Homo sapiens: one gene and its partners. The protein of the gene in region 1 purifies or fractionates together with the protein of each later gene. This does not show direct contact. Each region holds a gene or a part of one and is shown in the gene's direction. Other genes may lie near its edges.

What was found. The genes of interacting proteins can lie anywhere in the genome.
Region 2: the proteins of RASEF (region 1) and BLTP3B purify together in Homo sapiens (affinity purification with mass spectrometry; one large-scale study listed by BioGRID and IntAct). This does not show direct contact.
Region 3: the proteins of RASEF (region 1) and BLTP3A purify together in Homo sapiens (affinity purification with mass spectrometry; one large-scale study listed by BioGRID and IntAct). This does not show direct contact.

Annotation. Positions count from the first base shown.
Region 1 is NC_000009.12:82,996,082-83,001,485, reverse strand, and holds part of RASEF (ras and EF-hand domain-containing protein), read left to right. Parts: intron 1-355; coding exon 356-590; intron 591-915; coding exon 916-1,053; intron 1,054-1,169; coding exon 1,170-1,317; intron 1,318-3,039; coding exon 3,040-3,121; intron 3,122-4,359; coding exon 4,360-4,474; intron 4,475-5,404.
Region 2 is NC_000012.12:100,136,375-100,139,874, reverse strand, and holds part of BLTP3B (bridge-like lipid transfer protein family member 3B), read left to right. Parts: intron 1-3,500. UniProt on the Homo sapiens protein: Tube-forming lipid transport protein which mediates the transfer of lipids between membranes at organelle contact sites. Required for retrograde traffic of vesicle clusters in the early endocytic pathway to the Golgi complex.
Region 3 is NC_000006.12:34,795,083-34,798,582, forward strand, and holds part of BLTP3A (bridge-like lipid transfer protein family member 3A), read left to right. Parts: intron 1-3,500. UniProt on the Homo sapiens protein: Tube-forming lipid transport protein which probably mediates the transfer of lipids between membranes at organelle contact sites. May be involved in the retrograde traffic of vesicle clusters in the endocytic pathway to the Golgi complex.

The DNA of each region.
Region 1 (5,404 bases):
GAGTAAAAAAGCTCATATATTCTGCATACATTTTTATGAATACAACTTGCGATTGTGTTTATGTCTTAGGTACTCTAATTCTTTTTGTATCAGGAAATAAAGAACATTATTTTTTTAATGGCTTTGTTTGTTAAGTGTTTGATGTAAGGTTCTTTATCTTAACTGATTGCTGCATAGAATGAACTGATGGTGCTTTGAGCATTTTATTTCCCCTAATGCCTAATCATGAAATAACACTGCGGCTCTTAGCCACAGTCGGCCTACTTGATTCCATCTAATGGCATGTGGTCTATTGCCTGTATGTTCTTGAGCATTTCCAGCCCTCAGGTAAATTGGTCTTCCCCTTTATTACCAGGTCATCCCGCTCTTCCTATGTGGATGAGGACTGTGACTCCCTGGCCCTCTGTGATCCTCTGCAGAGGACAAATTGTGAAGTTGACAGCCTGCCTGAAAGCTGCTTCGACAGCGGCTTGTCTACCTTGAGAGATCCCAATGAGTATGACTCAGAAGTGGAATACAAGCACCAGAGGGGATTTCAGAGGTCACACGGGGTGCAGGAGAGCTTTGGAGGTGATGCTTCAGACACAGATGTAAGCCCCAGAAACCACTGCTCTCCTAGGCCTTCTACGTGATTGAAATCTGTCACCTTATTTGCCTTCTATCTGTCATGGAAATCTGTTTTAAAGGTCATAGATGTAAAGCATAGTTAGTAAAATGCTTTTTCCTCCACAGAGTTAGGGAGAAATTCTCATAGATTGCCATTCAGTGTCACTCTATTCCCTAATATTAATAGCATTGACTGTTGATTTAGCTGCATAGTTTTCTTCTTTTTAATCCATAATGTATACATTTTAGACTTTGTATTTTAACTGCTGACATTTTTTAATTTAACTGCTGACATTTTAAAAAAAATAGGTTCCTGACATAAGGGATGAAGAGACATTTGGTTTAGAAGATGTGGCTTCCGTCTTAGACTGGAAGCCCCAAGGGTCTGTTAGTGAAGGCAGCATTGTTAGTTCATCAAGAAAGCCCATCTCAGCACTCTCGCCCCAGGTAGGTGGTCTCCGAGACACTCCTATTCATGAACACTGCTTATTTTCTGTGCAGTGTTACTTATTAGGATGAAAACTGGCAATACCGTTATCATTCACTGTGGCTTTTCCCCCCAGACAGACCTGGTAGATGACAACGCTAAATCTTTTAGCTCACAGAAGGCTTACAAGATTGTACTTGCTGGGGACGCTGCAGTGGGGAAGTCTAGTTTCCTCATGAGACTTTGCAAGAATGAATTTCGAGAAAATATAAGCGCCACCCTGGGTATGGCTCGTATTTCGGTTGATAATGGGAAAATGACCTTCCTTAGCTTGATTTTCTCTTCTTCAGGGATTACATACACAGATGCTCAGTTAACAGTTTTCTCTTTCTCTGTGTATGCACACATATATAAATGTGTGTGTGTGTGTGTGTGTGTGTGTGTGTGTGTGTGTGTGTGTGTGTGTGTCTCCTAGTCTATGGAAAGGTCTTTCTTGTTTTGGCCAAGGCCTGCTTTTAGGAAAGGAAGATTAAAATGACAGAGATATCTGGCTGGGTGCGGTGGTTCATGCCTGTAATCCCAGCACTTTGGGAGGCCGAGCCAGGCAGATCACTTGAGGTCAGGAGTTCAAGACCAGCCTGGCCAACATGGCGAAACCCCATCTCTACCAAAAATACAAAAATTAGTTGGGCATGCTGGTGGGTGCTGGTTGTCCCAGCAACTCGGGAGGCTGAGGCTGGAGAGTCGCTTGAACCTGGGAGGCGGAGGTTGCAGTGAGCCGAGATCACACCACTGCACTTCAGCCTGGGTGATAGAGTGAGACCCTGCCACAAAAAAAAAAAAAGAGAGATATCTGCTTAGCCAATCAGATGAATTGAATCAAATTTAGATCCTGAGATATCAGATTCATTTATTCAGCATGTATTTCCTGAGTCCCACTAAAAACAAGATGCTGTTGTAGGTACAAACGATACACCATGAAGAAGGCTGACAATCCCAGCCTGCACTGCACTTACATCCCAGTGGAGGGAAAAGGTACAAAAAAGAAGTTTAGGGAGAGGTGCGGTTTTACGCAGGGTGGCCAGGAAAACCCTTTCTGCTGAAGTATTTGATGTTGACAAAGTGACAATATGGATTGCCACTTTGTCATTATGGTCAAAATCATAGCCAGATATATGATCCGTTACCCACCTTCACAACAGAACAATAGAACAAGTAGTATCCTGATTTCCCAAATTTGCATAATAGTAAAAGGAGTTGAAGATATGCAAATTATCATTTATTTTTCTTCTTCGTCTAAAGAGTTCTTATTTTGATCACCCGAAATGTTAGAACAGACTGATTGTCCTCTTCACATGAGTGTCTTTGTAAATTTATGGTTCTCTGATACACTCTTCAACATTAACAAAGCTGAAAGTTTACTTCAATTTGATTCATAAAAAGACTACATACAGTATTTGGTTCAGTTGTCAGAGACCATGATGCATGTAAATGTGTGTGTGCACTAACGTGTGTATATATACACACGCATATGTATACATGTTTAGATATACATACATTTATACATATATACCTACATATACATATACATACATGCATATACACAAAACACGTATCTGCACCTACACACATACATACACACACGTATACACCTGCACATTCATGCATGCCCACTCATACACACATGTACACACACCCACACACACACACACACAAATATGACTGAGTTCATCCAGTCATCAGGGAAAATAAAACAGATTTTTCCCTTGGCTCATAAATTAAATCATTCCCCAAGTCAGCCAACCTGCAGATGGTGCCTCTGCACACACGTGTGGTCTGACTTGTCATTCCTATTTGAAGGTCACTCTCCTTAAAGGTCATGTTCATTCCTCCCTCCCTGGCTGAGCTGTGTATTATTGGCTTTTGCTTCATCTAAAGAAGGCTTGAAAGTAAAAAGCCAATGGAATTATTTACATCGTGCTCTCCACTCTCACATTCCTTTTCAGGAGTTGATTTCCAAATGAAAACCCTCATTGTGGATGGAGAACGAACAGTTCTGCAGCTCTGGGATACAGCTGGTCAGGAGAGGCAAGTGCATTCCGCAGCGCTATGGGATATCCTGGGTTTGCATTAACAAGCCTTGCAGGCCACTTGATGTTCTTCATACTCAAAATTCTATAATTATAACATACTTTATAATTATATGCATAATTACATGTATAATTATAAAATGTATTATAACTTTAAAATGCTTATATTCTCGCACATCTCCTTCATTTACCTATGACTCCTGTGAGAAGAGGATCTTTAAGCTTCTTTTGAGCTGATGTTCAGTTGAGACAGAGAGTGCCCTTTGCTAACATGAGAGGCAGCATTTTTGAGTGCAGTGACAGCCTGAGGAACTCCCTGGCTATAGAACAATAAATGATGGAGAAGAGAACCAGTCAGCTCCCCTTGATTAAGGGCAGAGGCACAAACCGCATAGCAGACTTGCATTTGGTGATGGCACTTTACCTTGCATTCATTACCGATAAGCAGAGCATTAAGCACAGATTTTAATCTTGTTTAACTCCTTCGGAACAAAATCCATTCAATTGTTCAACCCGTAAGTATGGGGTGCCTGCCTCTGTACCAGGCATTATTCAGCATGCTGAGATTCAGTGGTGAACAGACAGGCACAAATACCTGCCCCCATGGTGCTCATATTCTCTAGCAGATTGGGAATTTCAACATATAAAAAATATTTGTGGTTGACATGACTGTATTTAAAATACTTATAAAATATTGCACTGGGTTTCAAGTTAGGGCATGTGTGTTGAGGTGTTCTCTTCCCAAGGTGAATCTCCTGACCCCCATGTATGTAAAGTCCTGGTATGTTACAGCGTTCCACACTGGTAGTTCCTCCATCCACCCACAATACTCCCTAACCACCACCACCACCAAAAATAAGTATTCTCTAGTTCGTATCTCCTTCCAGCCTCCTCTGTGTCCCACATGTGGGTTCTGGTAGCTTGTTGCTGAGGTTGAAATTTTTGGAAACTGTGCTCTCAACCTTTCCCTGGTTGTGCTCTGGGGATTGTAGACATTCTTGGGGTTGTTTGGTAGAGAGAAGGATTGGATTTTCTAAGTCGGTCACCCAGATTCTCATCATGTTACCTTTCATTGGGTCATTCGAGACCTTTGAAATGCCTATGTCTCAGTCATATATTGCAGTTAGAGTCTTCTCAACTGGTGTTGATTTTAGAAGAGGAGAAAAAAATGAGCATAAAAGAGAAGAAGAATGAGGCAACACAAACTGACTGATGATGTGGTTTTCTCTTTCTCAGATTCAGAAGTATTGCCAAGTCTTACTTCAGAAAGGCAGATGGTGTTTTGCTGCTGTATGATGTTACATGTGAGAAAAGCTTTCTTAACATACGAGAATGGGTAGATATGATTGAGGTAAGAAATCATAATGGAGAAACAGAAAATTACACGAGGAAGTTTTAGGCCATCTTGGAAAATGCTGTCTCTCTTCTTTGTCAGAATGAACTTGATTAGGAACCATTGATCCAAGCCATCAGGAAGAATTGGATGCTACAGGCAGAACTGGCAGCATTCATCTCTTCCTCAGGATTTGGGCACATTTCCCTGAAGCCAAGGACACTAATGAAGGGAGCTTTGGGGAATAAAACTTCTAGGTTTTCTTATAGATAAAATCAGAATCCCATCGTAAGCAAGTAAAAATCCAGGTAGCCTAGGAAGAAGTTATTACAAACAAGGAGATGGTGTGGTTGGTTGTGTAGTGTAGTTGGGGGCATGTGGGGGCATCCACGGGCATGGGAAGTACAGGTGAAACACCACCTGGATATGAGCGTGCGTCAAGTTTCAAATTGTATGGGAGCTCTCTTCTCTTCTCAACCTTATTCTGGTAGTGATTTGGGATCTTTAGATGTCTCAAGGTACTACCGAAATACCAGTTGATATTTTAAACATGGGCATAGCTTCTGTGCTTTCTGTGGTTAAATAAGATGATGTCTTTCACCTAAGGAACATTCCTGTCCTCTGGTTTCATGGTAAATAATTTTTAAAAGTAAATGATTTTGACCCCATTTAGCATGCTGCCAACAGTTACTAACATAACACTACAGTTCCAGCTATGGTTCAGCATGCTCTCTTGAAAAATAAACTTTTCAACTAAGTATATTAATACAACTTTTCAACTAAGTATATTACCTGTAATTTAAGAAGGCATTAAATTGCAGTAGTGGCTGAACAGAGGACTGGTTGCTGTCTGATCTCAATTTAGCTTCTGGCATTATTGTTCTCTTTCTAACTAAAGAAGTAGTGTGAGAAATGACTGATTGCAATTGGCAGTAAGACTTTGACAGT
Region 2 (3,500 bases), on another chromosome or scaffold:
CTTGCTTGCATTATTTTTCTCCATAGCACTCATGCTTGTCTGTCGTACATATTTATTTCTTTATGTATTTTTGTCTTTCTCCACTTAAATGTAGACTCTATGAGAGCAGGGATTTTTGTCTTGAGGCTGGCATAAAGTAGGTACTCAACAACTATTTGTTGCATGAATGTGGATACATAACATGAATGAGCTTACTTTCTCTTACATTGCTTTTTTTTACTGAGGCAAGACTACTGCCAATATTCTTATAGATTTGGGAATGACCAGTTTCCCTGTGGCTTTAGGAGGCAGTGAGTAATTGAATCATTAAATAAATGTGGTGCCTTTGGATCCTGGAAAATAACTAGGAAAATGACCTAGTTCTTACAGGGGTTTATATGAGGGGTCTTCCGGTAAGGAAATAACCCAGTTATTGTATGGGGGGAGGAGTTCTGCCAGTAAGGAGGAAGACTGTGAACCAACATGAGAAAGAGCTCTCATTTTTAGCCTTGAGGTTGAAATATAGTGCAGTTGCAAGATTAAAACCATCTTTGCCTGGATGAAGGGACTTGAGAAGCTGGTATGTTGGGAAAGTATGGAAGAGGAATTGTTCTTAAGAGATTAACAGATTCTTTAACTCAATGCTAAACTATTTGAGAACTGTAAATCTATATACTTGTTCCTTGCCTAATTGTTAGTTTGTATTCCAAACATCTCTCCAGTTGTTAATAAAAAGTTTATCTACTTGAAGAATCTGAAATGAGGACAAGGAGGTGTGTTGGTGGGATGGGGGAGCTTAGAGTAGTGACATTTTTCCAGAGTGAAACAGGAAAAGCTTTTGAAGGAGAAACTGCCCCGATTTTTCAAACTGTAATAGGACTGAATGTATTTTGGGAGGGTTTTCTAGGAGAGTAGTTTTTCACATGGGAATGGAAACTTCTAAAGAGAAGTCGTAACAAATGTGAGAAAGGAAATAAAAGCAGAAGCTACCTTTCAGCTCAAGACATTAGTGTGTGTGTGTGTGTGTGTATGTGTATGTGTATACACATGTACACACCTGTGAACAGGCGCTTGCAAATCGGCAAAGTGGACGTATATTTAATTAAGCCAGGACCTGAAAAGGGGTAGGGAAGTTTTGGATACAGACACTCTCTTCTCCTTCGCTCCCTTAGGCTAAGGGCATACTGTGCTCTGCACAAGGTTTCCTGGGAGTGGGAGTTGACTGGGCAGACATTCACCTCACCTCGGTGGAGTCATCGTATAGTTTAAAGCAGCAGTTGTCAACCAGGGTCAGTTTGTCTTGAGGTGACATTTGGCAGTGTCTGGAGATATTTTTAATTGTCAAGACTTGGAGGGGAGGGTAATACTACTGCCATCTAGTGAATAGAGGCCAGGGATGCTGCTAGACGTTCTACATTGCACAGCATATTCCCTCACAACAAATAATTATTTGCCCAAATGTCAGTAGTTCCGAGATTGAGAAACCAGCTTAAAGTGTACAGGTGTGTGTCGTATGATTGAGCTAGGGTTCTGTGCTAGTAAAGTTGTTTTGCCTGCAAACATCAGAAAGCTGATCTATTTAAGTAAAAAGGGAAATGTAACAGAAAGCAGAAGAATATCTGAACAACCAAATCAAGGAAAGAACAGGAACCAGCTAGCTCCTAGAATCTCATTGGAAGAGTTCTTGGACCTTCCTCTTAAAGTAGCAGCAGGGTTTTTTAACCTTGGCATCATTGGCATTTTGAAATAGATAGTTCTTTGTTGTGAAGGCTGTTCTGTGCATTGTAGGATGTTTAATGTCTCCAGACATTGCCAAATGTCTCATAGGAGGCAAAATTACTCCTGGTTGGGAGCTACAGCTTTAGAGTGCTGGCCTATCTTCCATAATTCCCAGTCTTTGATCTCTCCTGTCAGGTTTCAGAATCCCCTAGAGAGAAAGCCTTTGTGACCCAGTTTTGTCTACCCATGGTTCAATTAGCAATGGCAAAGGGTTGTACAGCAAAAATATGGTAATGGAGAGGGCTATTTTGAGTTAGGCTTGTTGCTCCATTAGTCATCTGTAATAGGCAGTGCACTAAATTAGATTTCCAAGGGCCTCATTTGCTACATTAAGGAAATTGAACTTTATCCTGGGGGTGAGGAGTGACTACTAATAAAGGTAAGAGGGATATGCTCATTAAAGCAGTCTTATTTTTGAAGTCTAGGGTTTAGGAGCAATATCTGGGGTGGAAATACGGAGTCTACAAATGGACTCTGAGTAACTTAAGTAGAAAATGGGGCCAGGTGTGGTGGCTCATGCCTGTAATCCAAGCACTTTGGGAGGCCAAGTCAGGCAGATCACTTGAGCCCAGCAGTTTGAGATCAGTCTGGGAAACATGATGAAAACTCTGTCTCTACCCCAAATACAAAAATTAGCCAGTCTCATAACCTGGTCTCAAAAAAGAAAAAAAGAATATTCATTATGGACATTCAGAAGGGTTAAACACATGCAGGATTTGGTGCCTGAATGGCAAAGTGATGAGAGGGATTAGAGTGCCTCACTTTGTGTTGATGGGATTGGCCACTAGATTGAGGATATATAAGGAAGGGGAGGAGAGGGCGGTAGCTGATAGCCTGGAGAGAAAAGGAAAGAACCGTCAAAGGATTGGGAATGCTATCTAGGTGGAAAAGTAATGGAGTAAAGGAATGAGATAATTGGAAGGGTTGGAGATTTTGTCTGAAACTGTCACATTGAAGTTTAAGATTTTAGAAGTGAAGTAGATCTGGTTTAGGAAAAGCTATCTGAGGCTGGGCGCCGTGGCTTATGCCTATAATCCTACCACTTTGGGAGGCTGAGGCGGGTGGATCACCTGAGGTCGGGAGTTCGAGACCAGTCTGACCAACACGGTGAAACCCTGTCTCTACTAAAAATGCAAAATTAGCTGGGTGTGGTGGCCCATGCCTGTAATCCCAGCTACTCGGGAGGCTGAGACAGGAGAATTGCTTGAGCCCGGGAGGTGGAAGTTGCAGTGAGCTGAGATCGGGCCATTGCACTCCAGCCTGGGCAACAAGAGCGAAACTCCATCTCAAAAAAAATAAAAAAAAAGAAAAAAAAGAAAAGAAAAGCTATCTGATATGGCCATAGAAGTGAGTTGCTGAAGAAAAGTTAAGGTGCATATAATTGGAGATCAATACTGCTAGGTCTAAAATCTTTCCAGTACTGACCATTCCTAAAAGGAAATGCAGTGTAGCTTATTTAGTCTGCCAGACATTATTTTTTCAAATGCTAACTTCACATCATTACTGATAGGCTAATATTTGTATCATAAACTTTTATGGTAAAGCTCAGTAAATAATTTTTGAGAGTTTATGTATTTAACGTTTTTGAGCACATATATATATATGCCACATAGTGGGCATTAGAGATACAAAGATGAGTAAGACATGGCTTCAGTTTGTGGGAAGCTTCAGCGATTCCTATTCTAATATAAGAAGCATGAGTAGGATCACTAACTGTAACCTATTTCTAAATTGGACTACTT
Region 3 (3,500 bases), on another chromosome or scaffold:
AGCCTTGTTTTTGTTTTTTAGAGACGGAATCTTGCTTTGTGCCTAGGCTGGAGTGCAGTGGCGCGATCATGGCACTCTACAGCCTTGACCTCCCAGGCTCAAGTGATCCTCCTGCCTCAGCCTCCTGAGTAGCTGAGACCATGCACCACCATGCCCCTGGCTAATTTAAAAATTTCTTTGTAGAGATCAAGTCTTGCTATGTTGCCCATGCTGGTCTTGAACTCCTGGCTTCAAGGAATCCTGCCTCAGCCTCCCAAAGTGCCGGGATTACAGGGGTGAGCCACTGCGCCCAGCCTGAACATACAGTTTTTTTTGTTTTTTGTTTTTTTTTTTGAGACTGAGTCTCACTCTGTCGCCCAAGCTGGGGTGCAGTGGCACGATCTCGGCTCACTGCAACCTCTGCCTCCTGGGTTCAAGCGATTCTCCTGTCTTGCCCTCCCAAGTAGCTGGGACTACAGGCGCGTGCCACCACACCCGGCTGATTTTTTTTTTTTTTTTTTAGTAGAGACAGGGTTTCACCATGTTAGCCAGGATGGTCTCGATCTCCTGACCTCGTGATCCGCCTGCCTCAGCCTCCCAAAGTGCTGGGATTACAGGCGTGAGCCACCGTGCCTGGCCTGAACATATAATTTTTAAAGAAAAATTTTAGCAGTATATGCTTACACATTCCTTGGCGAACACAGTGCCTTTTTTATTAATAGATGAAGTAGGAATAAGTATCACAGACATTGGGGAAAATTTCTGATTTTCTCAGCATTGGGCAGGGGACTGAGGAAGAGGTCACATTATAGTTGCAATTTCAGGACTCCAGGAAGAGGTGGTAAATTATGAGTCTTGTTAGGGGAAAGGCCAAACTCCTGGGGCTTTTGTGTTTGTTTAGCTTGGAAAAGCTGCCTAATCACATGTGACATTTGTGTCTCTGTGTAGTCTTTACCACATACAGGCTAGCCTGCCTGGGGAGGAACTATGACTCTGTGGCTTCCCAAACCTGATGGGGAAAGAGAGAGACGGGAAGGCATATCAAGTTAAATAAAGATATAGTGTATTAAATAAATACTGTAGGTGTTTGATAATTACTTGTTGCTGATGATGCCATTTGACCTACAGGAGAATGGCCCACAGCAGAGAGGATACACCAGTGAGTCATATTATGCTTATTTGGACATGAAGTTTTTCAGATGATAAAGTATCTTGTTGGAATGCACCCTCCTTAGTAGTAGAGTATTTTGGTAAACGAGATTTGAAGAGAATGGTATTCAATATGATTTTCTTAAATGCCTACCCTAGGCCAGGCACTAATCTGGGCACTGGAGATGCAGTGAGGAAGAAATATAAATGCCTTTTAAAGGGTTTAACTCTTGGTTTTCATGACTGCTGCTCAATGCAAATAGCTTTAATGCCCAGTATTCATTTAAATAGACCTTGGAAGAAACCTTTTCTTAGAAACACAAAGCAATGATTTAAAAAATATTCAAAATTGATTTTTCACTAAATTAGGTTTTTCTTGTTTTACGTGACCTAAGCTAATGACCTTTCGTTATACAAATAAGAAGAAATATGATCAATTGTAAAGAAAGGCAAGCATCTATCGTTAATGGAAGGAGCATGGGCTCTGGAGCCAAACATGCCAGATTCACCTTCCAGCCCTGCCACTAATCAGCAGGGCAGCCTTTTGCAGTGGTGCAATCTCGGTTCATTGCAACCTCTGCCCCCCCGAGTTCAAGTGATTTTCCTGCCTCATCCTCCCGAGTAGCTGGGACTGCAGGTGCACGCCACCACGCCCGGCTAATTTTTGTATCTTTAGTAGAGATGGGGTTTCATCATGTTGGCCAGGATCGTCTTGATCTCTTGACCTGGTGATCCGCCTGCCTTGGCCTCCCAAAGTGCTGGGATTACAGGCGTGAGCCACTGCGCCCGGCCCTGAGCCTTAGTTTTCTTATCTGTAAAAGATAAGGAGGAAGAATAATACATACCTAGTAGTTTTTTTTGGCGCATTGGGGATAAAGTTTTTATTATAGTGCCTGACATATAAATAGATGTTTAATAAAGAGTCGCTATATAATGTAGCCAAAGAAGTTAGGTCCACTGTGATGGCATGGATGACAGAAACCCGGCTAGCTCTTTTAAAACCCATCAGGAGCCTTAATTATTTATTTTAAATGACCGCAGGAAATGTGAACCTCAGCGATAGAGACCTGGCTGATAGACATGATAGATATTTTGAAAACATGTTAGATGAAATTCAGAGGCATAGAAGAGTTCAGCATTTCTTTTGGAGAATAAGAGAGCCTGATTGCAAATTTAGCCCTCTTAGTTCATGATGACTGCCTCCACTCATCATCTTGATGAACACTGAGGAGCAGCAAAGATCTTAGAGATCATCGGGGCCAGCCTCCAGTTGATAGTAGGAGTTCCAGGCTCAGAGAGGCTGTTACTTTTCCAAGGTCACTTAGGTGGAAGCTTGTCGGACTAGTCACAACTTCCAGTCATGTTCTTTTTACACTAGACTTTAGTTATTATCACGTTCTTTTCCAAAATAATTATTTCATGCATTTTCTAGTAATAGTTAAATCCTATGTTTCTGTTTCCCTTTCTCATTTTCTTGTGTTGCTTCAGAATAAAGCACTTTTATTTACTTAGCAAGTATTTAATAATAGCCCACTGTGCTAATAAGCACTTTACAAATCTTAAGACAATTTAGTCCCCATAATAACCCTATGAGGTGCATATTAGGCATATTTTATAGATGAAGAAAGGAAGCACAGAAAAGTTAAATAACTTACCCAAAGTTGTAACTAGTAAGTGATAGAGATTCAAATGCAGGCATTCCAATTCCAGAGCTGTGCTCTTCAACCACTCTGCTGCTATAATGCCTCCCATCTATTGAGTGTTTCAAACTGAACATGATCATGTCACTAGCAGCCACCTGAAGAAACAATATTACTAGCATCTGAGAAGCTTCCCACCCTGCCCTGTGTCTCCTTCCAGTCATTATCTCCACCAAAGGGTAACCAATGTCCAGATTTCTAACAGCATAGATTCAATTTTGTATTTTATATAAATTGAATTATATTTATACATTTATGTCTGGCTTCTTTAGTGCAAGATTTGTGAGATTAATCCATATTTTGCATCAAGTTGTAGATTCTTTTTCATTGCTGTATAGCATTTCATTATGTGATAATACCTCAGTTTACTTGTACATTTTACTGTTGATGGACTTCTGGATACCAGTTTAGGGCCGTTATGAACAGCGCTACTAGAAACATTCTAGTACATGTCCTTTAAACAAATGTACGCATTTCTGTTGGGAATATATGTAGGGTAGAATTTTTAGATTGTAGAATATGTATATGTTTAGCTTTAATGGATACACTAAACCATTTTCCAAAGTGGCTATACCAATTTACATTTCCACCAGAAGTGTGTGAGGGATCTGATTATTTTATATCCTTGCCAGTGCTTTGCATTGTAGCCATTCTGGTGAATGTATTTTTAAT